Linked DNA regions of Homo sapiens. The protein of the gene in region 1 interacts with the protein of each later gene in a pairwise test. Each region holds a gene or a part of one and is shown in the gene's direction. Other genes may lie near its edges.

Region 1 (5,827 bases):
TATAGTGAAATCAGGAATCTAGCCACATGAAACAAACAACTAATTAGAAAATGTAACAATGGGGTGGGGGTTGGGGGAGGCAGGGCATCAAGAAGATGAATGCTGGCTAATGGATGCTGGGCTTAATACCTATGTGATGGGATGATCTGGGAAGCAAACCACCATGGCATATGTTTACCTATGTGACACGTGTTTACCTATGTGACACAAACCACCATGGCACATGTTTACATATGTGACAAACCTGCACACGTACCCCAGAACTTAAAAGTTGAAGAAAAAAAGAGAAAATGTAATAACAATCCCATTATGTGGGCAAAGGACATGAACAAACACTTTTCAAAAGAAGATATACATATGGCCACAAGCATATGAAAAAAAGCTCAACATCATTGATCATTGATGAGAAACGCAAATCAAAACCACAGTGAAATACCATCTCACAACAAATAACTAATTAGAAAATGTAACAATGTAAAAAATAGAATGACTATTACCAAAAAGTCAAGAAAATAACAGATGCTGGAGAGGTTGTGGAGAAAAAGGAATGCTTACACACTGTTGGTGGGAGTATGAATTAGTTTAACCAGTGTGGAAAGCAGTGTGGTGATTCCTCAAAGAGCTGAAAACAAAACTACCATTCCACCCAGCAATCCTATGACTGGGTAGATACCCAAAGGAATATAAATTATTCTATCATAAAGGTACATTCACACATGTGTTCATTGTATTACTATTCAAGAGAGCAAAGGCATAGACTCAACCAAAATGTCCATCAATGGTAGACTGGCTAACAAAAACGTGACACATATACATCATGGAATACTATGCAGCCATAAAAGAAGATCATGCCCTTTTCAAGAACATGGATGGAACTGGAGGCCATTATTCTTAGCAAACTAAAATAAAAACAGAAAACCAAATACCACATGTTCTCACTTATAAGTGGGAGCTAAATGATGGGAACACATGGACACATATAGCGGAACAATGGATACTGGGGCCTTTTAGAAGGTGGAGGGTGGGAGGAAGGAGAGGGTCAGGAAAAATAACTAATAGGTGCTAGACTTAATACAAGGCTGATAAAATAATCTGTACAACAAACCCCCATGACACGAGTTTACCTATATAACAAACCTACACATATACTCCTGTACTTAAAATAAAGGTTAAAGAAAAAGAAGCCTCAAGGAATCTTGTAAAAACATTTGTGCTACCTCAAGACTTTAAGTCATGAAATTCACTGTGAACTGGATTAGGATCTTACGCGAGGGGCATAAGTAAAGCTTTTCAGAAATTCAAAGCTGACTCAGCCAGTGTAGTAGAAACAAAACAAACATAATATACAAAGCATTAAATTGAAAGTAATGGTTCCAAATAAGGAAAGATCCTAGCTACTTAAGATTTTCTCTGAGAAGTTCTTTTCTGGATTACTTTTAGTGCCTGAATGAAAGATCCTTTGATGTTTCTGTCATCCTCATTTTTCTCCTAATGTACCATCCTGAAAATCTATTTCAATAAATTTGAGAGGGCTTTAAAAATAAAAAAAAATGGAATGAAAAATATACCATTCAAAAGAGCAGCAACATTCAAAATATACCTAAAAAGAACATTCACAAAAACATACACACTCTATCAAAGCAAATATAAAAATGTGTTGATAGACTTAGGTGGATGCCTAAGTACAGCAATACAATATGTTTATATATGGTGAACATAATATTGTACAGATGTCAATTATCTTTATTTACAGATTTAGTGCCTTATTTGATGGCCTCAAGTCAGCAGAGAAGTGGCCCAGCACCTACAAAAAGTCAAGATAAGACACTGAGTGAGGACTGAGGGCATTACCTACCCAAGAAGAGGGACCCCCACAGAGCCCCGCCCCTACTGTCAATCTTGGGAGTCCCCAGGCGTGGCTGCTGGGCTCAGGTTCCACCTTACTTCCTACTCTGGACTCAGGGAAATGATCCTTTTTCTGAGGCTGACTGATTCAGCTTAGCAAAGAGAGAAGTCCCAGTGCCTGCAAAGTCAATGAAAGAAATATATGTATTTCTTTAAGAACTGCCCCTCCCCCGAACGCAGAACCATTTGCCGTTAAGCTGGGAGAGCAAAGTGGGCGTGGCCGGACATGTTTCTCTTGACCTATCTTCCACATCATCAAGCTGTTACGGGCGAAACCTTGGTCTGAAACATGCGGCCAGAGAAATAAATCTCAGGATCCGGCAGGTGTCAAAGTGAGTATCATTTGTTATGACCTTCAAGACACACTCTTCCCAGAACAGAGGCTGCCTCACAGAGACCCATCCTTCTCTGCTCTGTCCTGCTCCCACTTTCAACTCTCTGTGTCCCAAAGCGCAGCTGTTAGGCCTAACACCCTTACTTCCTGTTGGGAATCTGTGGGATGGGAAGCCATGGTCTAAAGCGAGGCAGCCTCAAGTCAACAGACGGAGGACTCAAAAGACTAAAGTAAAATTAATATCCTAAGTTAGAACTGATGTAGTCAGGAGTAAAATTAATATCCTGAGTTAGAACTGATGTGACAACCCCCCACAGAACAGTCCCACCCCGCTCCTGCCTTATGGGTTCCTAAAGCAATACCCTCAAGAGAACCAGGAGAGGTGGCCATTCTTAGACCAAGGTAGAATCTCCCTACCAAGGCTGTGAACACTATCTCATCCTCCGTCTTCTAGGGTGCCCTCTTCATCAATTCAACTGCCTGCACTATTGTCTGTAGTCCCTGACAAGAGTAATTATGCCTCGAGGTCAGAAGAGTAAGCTCCGTGCCCGTGAGAAACGCCACCAGGCTCGTTGTGAGAATCAGGATCTGGGAGCTACGCAGGCCACTGTGGCAGAAGGAGAGTCACCCTCCCCTGCCTATCTTCTCTTTGGTGACAGACCCCAGAATTTGCCTGCTGCTGAGACACCTAGCATCCCTGAAGCGCTTCAGGGAGCCCCATCCACCACCAATGCTATTGCACCTGTTTCATGCAGTTCAAATGAAGGTGCCAGCAGCCAAGATGAGAAAAGTCTAGGTTCCTCAAGGGAAGCTGAGGGCTGGAAAGAAGATCCTTTAAACAAGAAAGTAGTGTCGCTGGTGCATTTCTTGCTTCAGAAGTATGAAACGAAAGAGCCAATTACAAAGGGAGATATGATAAAGTTTGTTATCAGGAAGGATAAGTGTCACTTCAATGAGATCCTCAAGAGAGCCTCTGAGCACATGGAGCTGGCACTTGGTGTTGATTTGAAGGAAGTGGATCCCATCAGGCACTACTATGCCTTTTTCAGCAAATTAGACCTCACCTATGATGAAACAACCAGTGATGAAGAAAAAATTCCCAAGACTGGCCTCCTGATGATTGCACTGGGTGTGATCTTTCTGAATGGCAACCGTGCCCCAGAAGAGGCAGTCTGGGAAATTATGAATATGATGGGTGTATATGCCGATAGGAAGCACTTCCTCTATGGGGATCCCAGGAAGGTCATGACCAAAGATTTGGTGCAGCTAAAGTACCTGGAGTACCAGCAAGTGCCCAACAGTGATCCTCCACGCTATGAATTCCTGTGGGGTCCAAGAGCTCACGCTGAAACTAGCAAGATGAAAGTCCTGGAGTTTGTAGCCAAGATACATGATACCGTCCCTAGTGCCTTCCCATCCTGCTATGAAGAGGCTTTGAGGGATGAGGAACAGAGAACCCAAGCCAGAGCTGCAGCCAGGGCTCATACTGCTGCCATGGCAAATGCACGTTCCAGAACCACGTCTAGCAGCTTCTCCCATGCTAAGTGAAATCTGAGGCTTGTTCTTCACTTTTTGGTCGAAAAGGTCTGTCAACATTCTAATAGTGGAGGGCCATGGTGGGGCTGGAAGAAATAAGTGTATATCATCTTTGCATTCCTATTGTATATTGATAACTCGAGTTTTACTTTTCCATCTTTTTGTTTCCCCTAGGTTACATTTCAAATGTTCAAGTCTGAAGATTGTTTTCTTTGTGGAAGAGAAGAGCAGTCAACATTCTAAGTAGTGAATGGCCAGAGTGCGTCTGGAGGGAACACAGCATATATCATTTTGTGTTAATAGTCTATAGTAACTCGGAGTTGTATCTTTTTCTTTCTTTTTTTTTTGGTGTTATATTTCAAATGTTGTTGCTTATAATAGAAGTTTTAGATAACTTCAGAATCTATATTTATTAATGACTTTGGTTACACACGTATTGCTATTTAAGAGTAGGAGTTTTATTGTTCTGTAAAACAAATTGGGAAACCTTCTTTCATATTTAATGAGCCAGAACAAGGAAACACAGTATTGGAATAGGTATTTCCTTAAAAAATGTGAGATGATTTAGCAGTAAAATTTTGGAGATCAAAACATAGGTGAGAAAAAGTAAACTTTTCAGTTCTTGGTTTTCTTTTTCCATTTTAGTCTGTTATATAAAAATAAAAGTCATACCTGGATTGGCTTAGCTTACTGAAGAAGGTAGGAAGAAATAAAATGTTTATGAACCAGCATCTATGCTTACCGGCTCATTCATTCCTCCAATATTAATCCAACATCTGATTTTTGAAAGTAATTTTGTTAGAAATGGGAAAACCAGGATACAAAACACCCACCTCTGCTTAGACTTTTACAATTAATGAACAGTAATAATGTATGGAAGATGGTGAAATACTTCTAAGACCTAAAGGACAAGTAACAAGAGGGAGTAAGGAGGTAAGGAGTTAGAGAGGGGTTTGGGAAAAGTGCTGAAGTGTATCTGGCTGAAAATGGTAAGGTGCAAATTCTCTGAAGAAAGGCCCTTTTAGACTTTTGGAAACTTTGAGTCTCTCAGTGGGATATACTTTTAATTTAAGCTGGGTGGTGGGCTAGATGAAGCTTTGGGACTGGAGAGCAGAGGCCAGGCACTCAGATGGTGTGTCTCATTGTTGAAGGACAAAACCCTGGAGTGGAAAGCTCCACTTAAGAGTTACCTTGGTGACATCAATAAACCAGAAGAAAACCTCGGCCGGGCGCAGTGGCTCACGCCTGTAATCCCAGCACTTTGGGAGGCCGAGGCGGGCAGATCACGAGGTCAGGAGATTGAGACCATCCTGGCTAACATGGTGAAACCCCATCTCTACTAAAAATACAAAAAAATTAGCTGGGCATGGTGGAGGGCGCCTGTAGTCCCAGCTACTTTGGAGGCTGAGGCAGAGAATTGCTTGAACCTAGGAGGCGAAGCTTGCAGTGAGCCGAGATCTTGCCACTGTGCTCCAGCCTGGGTGACAGAGCGAGACTCTGTCTTAAAAAAAAAAAAAAAAAAAAAAAAAAAATCTCTTGGGGCAGAAGTGAGAAGTGGATAGTGTCCTGTGCTCTTGTTCACATTCAGTTGAACACATAGCACAATCTACTTATTTTATGCACAGCCTCTCCAGGAAATTTTTGAGAAATAATGGTGAAACTGCCTTGATGTGGGATGCTGAAAAGCTACTGTGTTGGCTCCTTTGCTCTGAACTGAGAGAGCCAAATCCTAGTATTTAAAAGGACATATTTTTGAGACAGGGTCTGGTTCTTTTCCCCAGGCTGGAACACAGTGGTGCAATCATGGCTCACTATAGCCTTGACTTCCCAGGCTCAAGCAATCCTCCCACATTAGCCTCTCAAGTAGCTGGGACTAGAATCACACATCACCCTACCCAGCAAATTTTTTGTATTTTTGTACAGACAGGGTTTCACTGTGTCACCAAGGCTGGTCTTGAACTCCTGACATCAAGTGATCCACCCACTTCAGCCTCCCAAAGTACTGGGAATACAGGTGTGAACCACCACACTCATCTTAAAAGGATATTTTAA
Region 2 (4,388 bases), on another chromosome or scaffold:
ATGAGGAAGTAGCAGAGAAGGGTCAGGAGCTCACTCAAGGTCACTCCTGGTTCAGAAGCAGAAAGGACCTGGGCCCGAAGCTCAGGCCTTGGTGACCATCACAAAGAAAACATGGCGTATCCTCTCCCCTGCCCCTCCATTTCCCTGTACCCTGAGCTCTTAGGGACGGCCAGGCCTGGTCCTGGTTGTAACCACCTCTCCAGTGAGGATCTCTTACATGCATACCCCGGCTGGTGGGTGGCATCCATGTCTGCAGTAAGCTGTGGGCTTAGGTGGGCCCGTCGGTGTGCTTCCCTCACCCCTTGCTGGCCTTAGGCTGTGTGTTCACCTCTCAGAGCTTTCCCTGTCTTTTGCGCCCTGGTTTACCATCTCCAAAGCCCTGGAGGCCTTCTTGGCCCTGTTTTATAGGTGAGGAACCCGCTGCGGGCGTAGTGTGCACTTGGCCTGGCCCCGGCTGGGCACACAGTAGGTGCTCAGTGTCCCACCTAGGACCACACAGCAGAGCCCCAACAGAAGCAGGGCTGGAGCCCAGGTCCCGGCTCCCAGGCTGGGAAGGGTGCCGGGCCTCAGGTGCAGCACTGTGCCACCTCTGGAGGTGGGAGGGGGCGGGATGCTGGTGGTGTGCTGTCCTGGGCAGCAGGGGACAGGCAGGGAGGAGCTCCTGGCTCGCTCTTGCTCTCCTAATGCTGGCCTTTGCTCCCTGCAGGGTCAGGATAAACATGAAGAATATTTTGCTGAGAACTTCGGCGGCCCAGAAGGGGAGTTCCACTTCTCAGTCCCGCATGCAGCCGGAGCCTCCACAGACTTCTCTTCAGCCTCCGCTCCCGACCAGTCAGCGCCCCCATCCCTGGGTCATGCCCACAGCGAGGGCCCAGCTCCTGCCTACGTGGCCAGTGGACCCTTTAGAGAAGCCGGGTTCCCCGGCCAGGCCTCCTCCCCTCTGGGCAGGGCCAACGGGAGGCTCTTTGCAAACCCCAGAGACTCATTCTCTGCCATGGGCTTTCAGCGAAGGTTCTTCCACCAGGACCAATCCCCTGTTGGGGGCCTCACAGCCGAGGACATTGAGAAGGCCCGGCAGGCTAAGGCTCGCCCCGAGAACAAGCAGCACAAACAGACGGTGCGTATGGGAGGCCCCTGGAGGGCCGAGGTAGCTGCCACCCACAGCAGTGATGGCCTTGGGCTCTGCTCTAGGGACTTTTCCTGGGTGCTGTGGTCTGGGGTTTTTAGGAGCGTGGTGGCCTTCTCTTGGTGGAGTGTGCTGTCAGGCGGAGCTGCTGACTGTGGGGTGGAGAGGAGATGTGGGGGCAACAGGAGCCTCTGAAGGTTGGTCCTGTCCCCTTGGCTGATTCCACAGGTCTCTTTCTCGTCTCCCTCCAGCTCAGCGAGCATGCCCGGGAGCGGAAGGTGCCTGTGACGAGGATTGGCCGGCTGGCCAACTTCGGAGGTAAGGTGGCTGTGTGCCCCTGGACTGCCTCACCTGCCCTGCCTGGGCACCACGCTGCGGCCTGCATGGAGGTGGGGACCCAGCAATATCCCGGGGAGGGCGTTGGGGGAGCAGGTGGCGGTGGCCGCCCCTGCATGAGCTTTTGGGGAGCTGGAGTTTTTCATGGGAGGATGATTCAGTTACTGGATTCCAGCTCTGCCTGGCTCTCCCCTGCGGGTTGGTACAGGGCCGATGCTGTGCCAGGAGCTGAGTTTGGATTGCCCGGCAGGCCTCGCCTGGAGGCGGTGTCTGCAGCATCTCTGTTTCACCCCTGCCTCAGGTTCACTACCAGTCGGCTGCTTTGGAGGCCTCTCAGGAAGGAGGCTGGGCAGTGAGGAAAAGCTCTTCCCTGGGGCTGTTCAGCAACTCAGCAGGGCTTTCTTTCCCCCTGGGACCAGACATTTAGGGAGCCCATTTGCTGGGTCCCCACAGGCCTGCGGCTCATGAGTGGAGTGACAAGATGCCATGGCCTCCAGCTGCTGCTGTTTAAAGCCGTTTGTCTGTACTTTGGGGGGTTGAGTTGTCATTGTGCCCAGTACACATGCGCTCTTTTTATAGAAGTTGAAGGGTGATTTTATAGTGAAGGTTTATAGCAGTTGTGTCTGCTTTGATGGCATCATGTTTGTCATGCTGCTGCTAATGCGCTGGCCCAGATGTTCCTGTTAAAGTGCCATCTCCTTTGCTGTGGTACACTCTAAGTTAGTTACTGGGATTGCATTTCTTTAACACTCAGCTGTCCTCAGTAGGTTCTCCAGGTGATATAATTAATGGAAGCCACAGTTTTGGTGGCTTGATTTGGACCCTGACCTTGGGTGAGTGGTTAGTTCCAGGGCTGTAGGCAGCAGAGGTCTGAGTGGTCCATGATGGTGCTGGTGCTGGGTGGGGCATGGAGATGCACTCTCATGGGTCTGCCTGTCTCTTTGCTGGTTTATGTTTTTCCTCCCATACACCATCCATCATACATGCTGTTCCTCCGCTCCTGCCTATTCTCTTTTGGAAACCCCATCCTACTTGTTCAAGACTGGTTCTGGGCAGAGGCTCACGTACTGTGCTCCCCGAGAGCCTGGTATTCTGGGAGCTGCGTAATGTGTGTGGGTTCTGACATTGAATGATGGCTGGCCCCCCTCTCCAAGGTGCTGAGCAGACTTGGTTAACTGGATAGAATTTTCTCAGCAGTAAGGTTTTCTTTCATAATTTTTACCTTAATATTTGGCATCCACTGTACTTAGCCATTCAGGAATTTAGTATGAAGTGTCATCTATGTGACAGCCAAGAGTATTTGCTTATTTCCTTTTCCTGGGGTAACATTTCAAGCAGTCCCTCATAGAATATCACACCTCCCTGAGTTCTGCTGTCAGAATGAGTTTGAGAATCACTGCCTTGGTGGCCTCTAGTGGTCCTTATCCCCTGGAAGACTTGGCATGTTACTTGCTTTGCACATTGGCTTGTCATTGGGTAACATGTATTATTTCTTATTAAAATATTGAATGGAGGCTGTCTTCTTTCCCCATGATATTGAGGGCAGGAGCTACCCTGTTTTCACATCGGTACCTTTTCTCTGTCCCCTCCCTCTTCCTTTCACTCTAGACTCTTGGTGAGCCTGTCCCTGGAAGGCTGAGTTTGACGTGTTTCAGGACTGGTGCAGTCCTCACTTCGGAGTCTTTGTGGGGTGGGGAGAAGCGGTAGAGCTAATGCAGGCTGTTAGGGAAAAGTGGTCAGAATGAAAGTCTTGATGGTGAATTAGAATCTGGTGGAGCACCACGAAGTCCTGGCGAAGGAGGCAGTAGTCAGACCCTTTTGGGTGACGGGTTAAGGAAGACAGAGACTGATGTGGAAGGGGTTATATATAGGAAGATGTGTAGGAAGAAAAAGGTAGAGAGCTCTCCTCAGAGGGTGGGGGATTATGGGTAGCCAGAGGGAGCCTGGGTTAGTGGAGTTGAAGCCCTAGTCTTGGGTGCTTTGTAGCATCAGAAGCCTCTGGAGCCTTTGCTGACACCTGCCTGATGTACGGAGCCATCTGTGGGTGTCTGTGTGCTGGAGGATTGCCCACAGCTATGATTCAGAGATGCTCATGTTGTTGCCCAAGCAATTGACAGATGATGTTTCAGGCTTGGAGATGGCAGGATGGGAGCAAAGAGAAGCCAGGTCAGGAAAGAACGTGCCGTTCTGGCCCTAGTGGGGAATTCTGGGCCTTCTGGCTCACCCAGTTGAACCTTTCAAACTGTAGGTTATGACCCTTTAGTAACTGTGAAATTAATTTAATGCATCAGGATCAGCATATAAAAAACAAGTTAACTGTAATCTCAGCACTTTGGGAGGCCGAGGTGGGAGAATCACCTGAGGTCAGGAGTTTGAGACCAGCCTGGCCAACATGGTGAAACCCCAATTCCTACTAAAAAAATACAAAAATTAGCTAGGTGTGGTGGCATGTGACTGTAATCCCAGCTACTCGGGAGGCTGAGGCACAAGAATTGCTTGAGCCCAGGAGGGAGAGGTTGCAGTGAGCTGAGATTGCGCCACTGCACTCCAGTGGGGGCGACAGAGTGAGACTCTGTCTCAAAAAACAAGTTAAACAGAATGGAATTCAATAGAAAAGATTAGAATTAATATCGTACATCCTTACAATGAACTATACACATGGCAAGATATTTTAGTTTCAGAGACATACATACTATTTAAGTATGTTCTTCACTACAATGTGAAATATATAGCTTACTGGTGGGTCATCATCCAAACAGTTTGTAGTTGCACTGTTGCGCTTTGTTCTCCTAGAAAATACCTCTAGCCTTTCTTCCCTTCATGGAGGAAAGGTGTTTTTCAGGTGCAGACTGACAGACTTTAGGAAGTTTTTACACGGGGTTATGAAGGAAAGGGATTGCTCTAGGTCTCAGGGAGGTAGGGCTGC
Region 3 (4,388 bases), about 94 Mb from region 1:
TTTGAGTTCTAGCTCTTCCACTCCAGGAATGGGGACTCTTAATCACTTCATTATATAATCAATCCATTGTATCTTGGATCATTGTTTGGTTTCTTTTTATTGGTTTTGTTTTATTGCTAGCATTATGTTCTTCCCCCACCCCTAATTTTGTGTGTTTATGTTTTCAGCTATACTTTGGGTCAAATAGACTTGCAAAAACCTAGCCACTTTTTGCAGTGTCATACACTTGGGGAAGTAAGGTCTGTGTTCTCTGTGAGAGGTTTTTTTTTTTTTTTTTGACAGGGTCTTGTTCCATTCCCCCAGCTGGAGTGCAGTGGAGTGATCTTGGCTCACTGCAACCTCTGCCTCATGGGCTCAAGCGATCCTCCCATGTCAGCCTCCCGAGTAGTTGAGACCACAGGCATGCACCATCACACCCAGCTATTCTTTTGTATTTTTAGTATAGATGGGGTCTTGCCATGTTGCCCAGGCTGGTCTTGAACTCTTGAGCTCAAGTGATCTGCCCCCCTTGGCCTCCCAAAGTGCTAGGATTACTGGTGTGAGCCACTGCCCGGTCAAGGTCTGCATTCTAAAAGAATTTACAAATGACCTTTTTGGAAAACAGGATTGAGAGGATATTTGACTTTGAGAACGGTTGATTTTGAGGCATACCTTTTTCTTTTATTTAGAGAATAAACTCTCAGCTCTAAAATTACACACTCTAGAATATATTCATCTATGGTTTTTTAATGTCATAAAGCCTTTTAAAAATTGGGTATTGTAAAATCAAACACAGCAATAAGGATGGAAATTGCTTGCTAGATACTTTTTAATAAAGTGTAAATATTTCAACTGTAAACTTACCTTTTGGGAAAAGCTCTGTTCCTAGCTTGACATCCATGTCAAAATTTATTGAAGTGAAACCCAACATGGGGTTTGAGGGAATATCCAGAAGACTGATATGTTCAAGATTTGGAAGAGCTAAAGGACTGGCCTCTCTGTAATTAGATTAAGCTATGTTTTGGGTCCCTATTGCAGTGTGTTTTCACCTTGATATAATTAATCAGTATTTATTGAAAATCTAATATGCATTCAGCACTACTTGGAATGATAGGAGATAGAGGAAAAGTAATACACATGGTGTCCCCTACCATGACACTCATGATAGATGACATTCATATAAAAGACACACTGCTAGGGGTTGTGGGATACATCAGATCATCTGATCAAGGGAGCATACTGGAGTTCAAACGAGTGACAGAAATGTTATCTAAAGGGAATCTTGAATCTATCCATATATATCATTCATTCACAGACTTGGTACTTTTTTTATTAGTAACAAATTACTTACTGTATACTATAATTTACCATGGCACACCAGTTTGTTATGAAGTGACAGTTGAAAACTGCTGTGTTGGAGCTTATGACAGTAGGAGGGACAGGATTTACTGCTATAAAATAACTGAATAATTCAGGATAATGTAAAATATACTGAAATGGGATGTGCATTATTACTGCTCCTTGAGGGCTTTTATAGTCAGGGAAAGCTTTGTGGAGAAAATGGCTACTGAAAAAACAGATAGCATATCAGCCCAGGTTCTTAATTGCAAGGAAGAGAAATACAATCTGATTGATTTTAAGCAGAAAAGAATTTATTAAAAAGAACTGGGATATAATGCATACCCTTTGGCCCCACAGTTTCATTCCTAGATATACAGCCAACATACACGCATACATGTGTTTACTAATATGTGCAAGAATGTTTGCAGCAGTGTTTGTAATAGAATCACACTGGAAACTAAATGCCCATTAAAGGTAGCATAGATAAGTAGTTTTTTTGTTTGTTTGTTTTTGTTTTTTTTTGAGACAGAGTTTCATTCTTGTTGCCCAGGCTGGTGGAGTGCATTGGCATGATCTTGGCTCACTGCAACCTCTGCCTCCCGGGTTCAAACGATTCTCCTGTATCAGCCTCCTGAGTAGCTGAGATTACAGGCATGTGCCACCATGCCCAGCTAATTTTTATATTTTCAGTAGAGGTGGGATTTGGCCATGGTGGCCAGGCTGGTCTCGAACTCCTGACCTCAAGTGATCCACCCTCCTTGGCCTCCCAAAGTGCTGGGATTACAGGCGTGAACCACCCCACCTGGCCTGTATTCACCTGATCATAGAAGGTTATACAGCAGTGAGCACAGACTGCAATTATGCATAACATGGGTGAATCTCACAAAACCTAAAATTGAGGAAAGAAAGCAGACACAAAAGAGAGCATAGTGAATGATTTTATTTATATCAAGTTGAAAAATGGATAAAATTAATCTATAGTGTCAGAAATCAGGATAATGGTTACCCTTGGGAAGGGAATAGTAACCCTTGGGAAGGGAAAGGGAAATAAGGAGGGCTTTGGAAGTGTAGTTGACCCTTGAACAACACAAGTTTGAACTGTGTGTGGATCTACTTATACATGAGTTTATTTCACCTCTACCACCCTGAAGACAGCAAGACCAACCCCTCCTCTTCCTCCTCCTCGTTATGATTTTTTTTTTTTGAGACGGAGTCTCTATCTGTTGCCCAGGCTGGAGTGCAGTGGCGCGATCTCAGCTCACTGCAACCTCTACCTCACAGGTTCAAGCGATTCTCCTGCCTCAGCCTCCCAAGTAGCTAGGATTATAGGTGACCACCACCAAGCCCAGCAAATTTTTAGTGGAGATGGGGTTTCACCATGTTGGCCAGGCTGGTCTCGAACTCCTGACCTCAAGTGATCCGTCTGCCTCAGCCTCCCAAAGTGCTGGGATTATAGGTGTGAGCCACCATGCCCAGCCCTCCTTATGATTTTCTTAACATTTTCTTTTCTCTAGCTTTATTTTCAAAACACAGTATGTAACACATATATAACATACAAAATATGTGTGAATCGACTGTTTATGTTGTTGGTAATGCTTCCAGTCAACAGTAGGATATTAGTAGTTAAGTTTTGGGGGAGTCAAAAATAATATGCAGATTTTCAACTGTGCAGTGGGTCAACACCTGTTAATGTTCTGTTTCTTGACACAGGTGGTTTTGGTTTGTGAAATTATTTGAGCTGTAGACTTAATGTTACGTGCACTTTTCCCTTACATCTGTTATACTGTGCCTGTTTCTGTACATATGTTACATATCAAATGTTTATTAAAGGGGTATATTGGGTAACTCAGAATTTCTGGTGCTCCTGGCTATATATACCAAATCCCAGTTCAGGATTCAACAACCCAGATCATGCTGCTGAACTGCACTACCACTGCCAAGTGTGAAATTGAAGCTTGCTCTGCTGGCCTTGTTGCCTGGGAGCTTGATCCTGCTTCTGTTACTCCACACCTGTCTCCCTCCCTGTTCCATTCCTGGCTCCATTTGCAGCCCTCCTTTCAAAGTGTGGGGTGGATACCTTTGTTAGGCAGAGCCTAGCACAAGTGGTCCTCCTTACTGCAAGGGAGTCTGGGAAAGCAAGTATCCAGTGTTTTCAGCTTTTATAGTGGGTGGTGATTTCTGCCAGAAATTGTAACAAGGGGACAAGGGGTGTTTCAGATTTGGGGCAGCCAAAAAGCGAGCAAAATCCATCTTTGAGGTGAGCATTTAGGCCAATAGAAGAAAGTAGATTTCAAGTGTTAGGAACAATAGAAGCCCAGGGTAGAGGTTGAATAGAGTATGGCATTTGAGCCCAGTGGAAACAAGTTTAACTGGATTAAAGGGTGTGCTCTGGGAAAATAGTTTGAGAAAAGTTGAAGGAATAGGATGGGACAAGATTAAAGATTACTTTGAAAGTCAGGCAGAGGAATTTAAATTTCATATGGGAATGTTGGAGCCAGTAAAAGTTTTTGAACAAGAAAGTGTCCTAAAAGGAAATGGTACTTAAGGATTATTAATCTGGCAGCACTTCTAGGGGTATCTAGGCATTTTCTGTCATAATTTAGGTGTGGGGTGATAGATTGGGAGTAGAAATAAAAGACAAAGATTGTATTTAAGAGAAGATTTGAAGGAAAAAAATCAATAGGACTTCTTGAAGAGAAAGAAGTAGAGGCTATTTCTGAAACTGAGCTTGAGTGACTGATCCCACTCTTCATTTAGAGCTAGCAAAGCTGAGGAGGGACCCAGTTTGGAGGAAGCAGAAGAATGAATTTTAGTTTGGGAATTGCTGAGTTTGAGGTGAGAGATATTGAGTAAAAGTGGTCCCTGTGCAGTTAGAGTTGGGGACCAAGAAGTGGAAAGAATTGCACTCAGGCAGAAAGGCTGTGAAGGGAATGGAACAGAGTGTGCCAGAACCCTCAGGGTGTTTCTCAGCTCTTGTTTACGGGCCACCAGGTATACTATCTTGAATTTAATTTTAAGTGATACGTTTGAACCACAACCTCTACCTTTTGTTTCATAAAACGTCAGTT
Region 4 (4,388 bases), on another chromosome or scaffold:
TTTCGTAAGACCTCATATCTACCGATGTGATTATTTTGAGTATGTTAATATACTTCAAAGCAAAATGACAGTATGTAAAACACAAAGCTCAATCACTCATTCATCACGTATTTATTGACTATCTGCCATGTGCCAAGCACTGTTACATATTGTGGGGTAATATCAGCAAACAAAACAGGCAAAGATGCTTGCCTTTATGGAGCTCACATTATAAGGTGACACTGAAAATAAAATAATGTTTAGGGCAAACATGGTCTCTGCTCTCACAACACTTAGCCTAGGTAGAAATACAAAGCAAGCCGTTGGTAGACAGGCCATGTGGTAGGCAGAAAAGCAGAAGGTGCCTGGTATTGTGAAGGCATCTAACTGTGACTGAGGTACATCTAGCAGAGTTTCCCAGGTGAAGTTATCTTGGTAGGAATAATCTAGATGAAGAAAGGGACAGGGATGAATATTCTAAGCAAGGAAGAATATGTTTATAAAAAAGCCAGAAGAAAGAGAGTAGGGAAAGTTCGGGGAACTGATAGTAGTCCATTCAGGCTGGAGCATAGTGTTCAAGAATGGAATGGTAGATGAATCTAGAGGAGTTAAGCAGGGTCATACCATGAATGGCTTTTAAAGTAAGTTGTTGTAAGGAGTTTGGAATTTATATATTGAGGAACCATTAAAGCAGGGGAGCGATATGTAGCATTTGAAGGATGAATATCAAAAAATCGTTTCAAGGAATAAGGTAAATAAAGTCACTTTGGTGTTTGTTTCTGCACATTAACACTTCAAAACTTGGCCTAGAATAAAATTGAGCACGTCCATGAAACCAATTTTGAACCTCAAAAATGAATGGTAGCCTAATCATTAGTTATTTTAATAGAATATACAGGAGCATTTACATAACTATATATTTGAGGTTTTATTAGTGGTGTTAATATCTCAAGGCAGAACAGCACTTTATCTTCACATCATTATAACTATTTTAAGCCCAAGAAGCCTTAGTACTTTTTTCCACTTTATCCTGAAACTCTGGAAGTGCGGCATAGGGGTTGCTTATACTCGCATTCTACTTAAAGCCACACTATGCTTAGGACTTGGCCATTTAAACAAAATCCAGTTGTTGCGTTATTACTGCTCTTTGAGATAAGCTCCAGCAATACAAAGTAAAACCAGTGCTACTATTCTAGAAAAGAAAGTCTAGCTTGTCTCTCCACCCTCAATTATATTATTGCTAATGACCAATGACATTGGAGGAAGTTTTATCTCTTTAATTTGTTGCAGGTTATGCTTTTTAAGATAATACATAGAAATATTCAAATATAGAACTTGACAAATCATCCAGCTTCACACTAACACATTCAAAAACTATTTATGAAGAAGAGAACCAGATTGTATTGTTAATAGTTGCAATAACAGTACCAACAGGTAGTAGAAGTAACTGAATAACAGCCATCACTTTGGTTGAGCTTAAGTTGTGCATAGGTGCTCTTCCAGACACCTCATGTGTATTATTAACTTTATAATCCTCACCACCAAATGAGGTAGGTACTATTATTATCCATATTTTAAAGATGAGAAAGCAGAAGTACTAGTCACAAGATTAGCAATTTTTTTAATAATTGGAAGGCTTTTGCATTTCAAGCTCCAGTGGCTTAATTGACATTTTTATAGAATGAGTAATTGCTATGATTTTTTAACGTATCAATAAAAGTTCTTAGAAGGTAAAAATGGCCTTTCAGTTCATTTTTTAAATCTTTAACTCTGCAAAATTGACATAGGTACACTTCAGTGGCTAATCAAAGGCTAAAATCATACTAGTAGATTTGGAAGTAAAATATGGTTAGAGAACTAAAAAAGCCATGTGTATATACATATTCATATAAATAGAGCTTTTTCTTATCTTCAGAAATGTATGTATTTAATCCCTACTGAAGAACCGAGTTCACTGAGGAAAGGATACTAGGACAGGTGGTCTTAATTTTAGAGAGGAAAAGCTATATTTAAAACTATTTCACCCTTTATCCATCAGAGAAACATTTGCTTTTCATTTTTAAAATGTACTGTTCCAGATGTGGGGGATATAGTATATAAATAAAATAATCAAAATTCCTGCCTTCCTGGAATCTACATTCTATATGGGGGCAGAAGGGAGCAGAAAAGCAATATGTATATAAATTATATAGTATATTAGAAGGTGAAAATGGTGTACCGGAAAATATAGCAGGAAACTACTTTGATGGGAGTAGAGAAAGACGTGAGAAAGCACACATGCAGGCATCTGAGAGAAGATGCTCCAGGTAGAGGGTGCAGCAAGTACAAAAACCCTGAGGGCATGACATAGCTGGTATGGTCAAGGAACAGCAAGGAGGGCTTGGCTAGAGACGAGTAGAGGAAACGGGGAGCCAAAACATATAGGGCTTCGACTTTGGTCTTTACTCAGAGATGAGGCGCCTTTGGAAATTTTGAGCTGAAGAGTGACATAATTTTAGGCTTTAACAGAATCATTCTGGCTGCCACGTTGAGGATAGGTGTTGGGTGGAAGCTGACTGATCTGTTTCAAACTTATTGCAATAATGTAGTCAGTAATTCAGTCAGAAGATGGCAGTGGCTTGGATCAGGGTAATTGTGGTAGGTAGGATGGAAGTGGTCAGGTCCTGTGGGCCTGTGGGTGTTGTTTGTTTTTTGTTTGTTTGTTTTGTTTTGTTTTGTTTTGTTTTTTTGAGACAGAGTCTTGCTCTGTTGCCCAGGCTGGAGTGCAGTGGCGCAATCTCGGCTCACTGCAAGCTCCTCCATCTGGGTTTATGCCATTCTCCTGCCTCAGCCACCCGAGTAGCGGGGACTACAGGCACCCACCACCACACCCAGCTAATTTTTTGTATTTTTAGTAGAGACAGGGTTTCACCGTGTTAGCCAGGATGGTCTCGATCTCCTGACCTTGTGATCTGCCCGCCTCGGCCTCCCAAAGTGCTGGGATTACAGGCGTGACTGTGGGTGTATTTTAGACTTAAAGCCAGAAGGATTTGCTTGACAGACTGTATGTATATTGGACACAAAGAGGTCAAGAATTATTGCAAGGTTTTGTTTTGTTTTGTTTTAGAGACAGAGTTTCACTCTTCCAGTCCAAGGTGGAGTACAATGGCGCAACTTCGGCTCACTGCAACCTCTGCCTCCCGGGTTCAAGAGATTCTCCTGCCTCAGCCTCCCAAGTAGCTAGGATTACAGGTGTGCGCCACCATGCCCAGCTAATTTTTTGCATTTTTAGTAGAAAAGGGGTTTCACCATGTTAGCCAGGCTGGTCTTGAACTCCTGGCCTCAGGCTATCTGCCCGCCTCAGCCTCTCAAAGTGCTGGGATTATAGGCGTGAGCCACCACGTCCATCTGCAAGTTTTTGACCTAAGTAACTGAAAGAATGGGGAGTTGTAGATAGTTAAAATGGGGAATGCCAGAGGAGGCAAAGATTTCAGGGATGGAGGTCTGGGAAGTATGTCAGTTATATTAGAAGCCCAGTTTTAAATATGTTAAGTTTGAGATGTCTCTTAAACATTTAAGTGGAGGTATCCAATTTTAGGATATGCAGGTCTGGACTTGGATTGGGGGCAGGGTGAATTAGATAATTAGAGAGTTGTCAGCATATCAAAGATATTTAAATCTGTGAGACTAGATAAACCCTCAAAGGAGTAAGTATAGAGAAAAGGAGAGGATCAAGGACTGATCCCTGAAGTACTCTAGCATAGAGAGTTGAGGAACGAGGCAAGGAAGATGATAACGAGTGAGGCAGTGAGGTAAAATGGAAACTAAGAGTATGGCCTGGAAGTCAAGTGAACATGTGTGAAAGTGGGAGAGAATGGTCACTGCCTAGGTCAAGTGAGAGGACTACGAATTGACCATTGGATTTAGGAACATTAAAGTCATTGCTAACCTTGACGAGTAGTTTTGGTGAAACAGTAGGCGCAAAGTAATGTTTGTAATATAAGAGACTCGGAGGAGAGGAATTGTGACCGTAAGAATACGTAAATCTTTCAAGGGGTTTTGGTGTAAAGGGGAACAGAGGAATGAGGCAGTAGTCGGAGGAGAAAGTGGGGTCTAGCAATTTTTTGCTTGTTTTTTAAGATAGGAGAAATAAGGGCATGTTTGTAAGCTGATGGGAATGATACACTAGGTGGAGAAAATATGATAATGTGGGAGGGAAAGGGAAGAATTGCTAGAGTGATACCCTAGAGAGGCAAAAAAGGATGAGATTTTGTGCACATATGGAGGAATTAGCATCAGGAGCATAGACAGCTCATTAAAGAGTTTCCTGGCCAGGCGCAGTGGCTCATGCCTGTAATCCCAGCACTTTGGGAGATCAAGGTGGGCAGATCACTTGAGCTCAGGAGTTTGAGATTAGCCTGGTCAATATG

The links. Proteins that work in one complex are often made in the same cells at the same time.
Region 2: the proteins of MAGEB18 (region 1) and COQ8A interact in binary tests that used the Homo sapiens proteins (3 or more experiments, as listed by UniProt).
Region 3: the proteins of MAGEB18 (region 1) and LAMP2 interact in binary tests that used the Homo sapiens proteins (3 or more experiments, as listed by UniProt).
Region 4: the proteins of MAGEB18 (region 1) and SH3GLB1 interact in binary tests that used the Homo sapiens proteins (3 or more experiments, as listed by UniProt).

Annotation. Positions count from the first base shown.
Region 1 is NC_000023.11:26,136,231-26,142,057, forward strand, and holds MAGEB18 (melanoma-associated antigen B18), read left to right. Parts: upstream 1-2,112; 5' UTR 2,113-2,237; intron 2,238-2,693; 5' UTR 2,694-2,755; coding exon 2,756-3,787; 3' UTR 3,788-3,823; intron 3,824-3,949; 3' UTR 3,950-4,506; downstream 4,507-5,827. UniProt on the Homo sapiens protein: May enhance ubiquitin ligase activity of RING-type zinc finger-containing E3 ubiquitin-protein ligases. Proposed to act through recruitment and/or stabilization of the Ubl-conjugating enzyme (E2) at the E3:substrate complex.
Region 2 is NC_000001.11:226,964,294-226,968,681, forward strand, and holds part of COQ8A (atypical kinase COQ8A, mitochondrial), read left to right. Parts: intron 1-706; coding exon 707-1,117; intron 1,118-1,377; coding exon 1,378-1,444; intron 1,445-4,388. UniProt on the Homo sapiens protein: Atypical kinase involved in the biosynthesis of coenzyme Q, also named ubiquinone, an essential lipid-soluble electron transporter for aerobic cellular respiration.
Region 3 is NC_000023.11:120,458,409-120,462,796, reverse strand, and holds part of LAMP2 (lysosome-associated membrane glycoprotein 2 isoform A precursor), read left to right. Parts: intron 1-4,388. UniProt on the Homo sapiens protein: Lysosomal membrane glycoprotein which plays an important role in lysosome biogenesis, lysosomal pH regulation and autophagy.
Region 4 is NC_000001.11:86,735,576-86,739,963, forward strand, and holds part of SH3GLB1 (endophilin-B1), read left to right. Parts: intron 1-4,388. UniProt on the Homo sapiens protein: May be required for normal outer mitochondrial membrane dynamics. Required for coatomer-mediated retrograde transport in certain cells. May recruit other proteins to membranes with high curvature. May promote membrane fusion.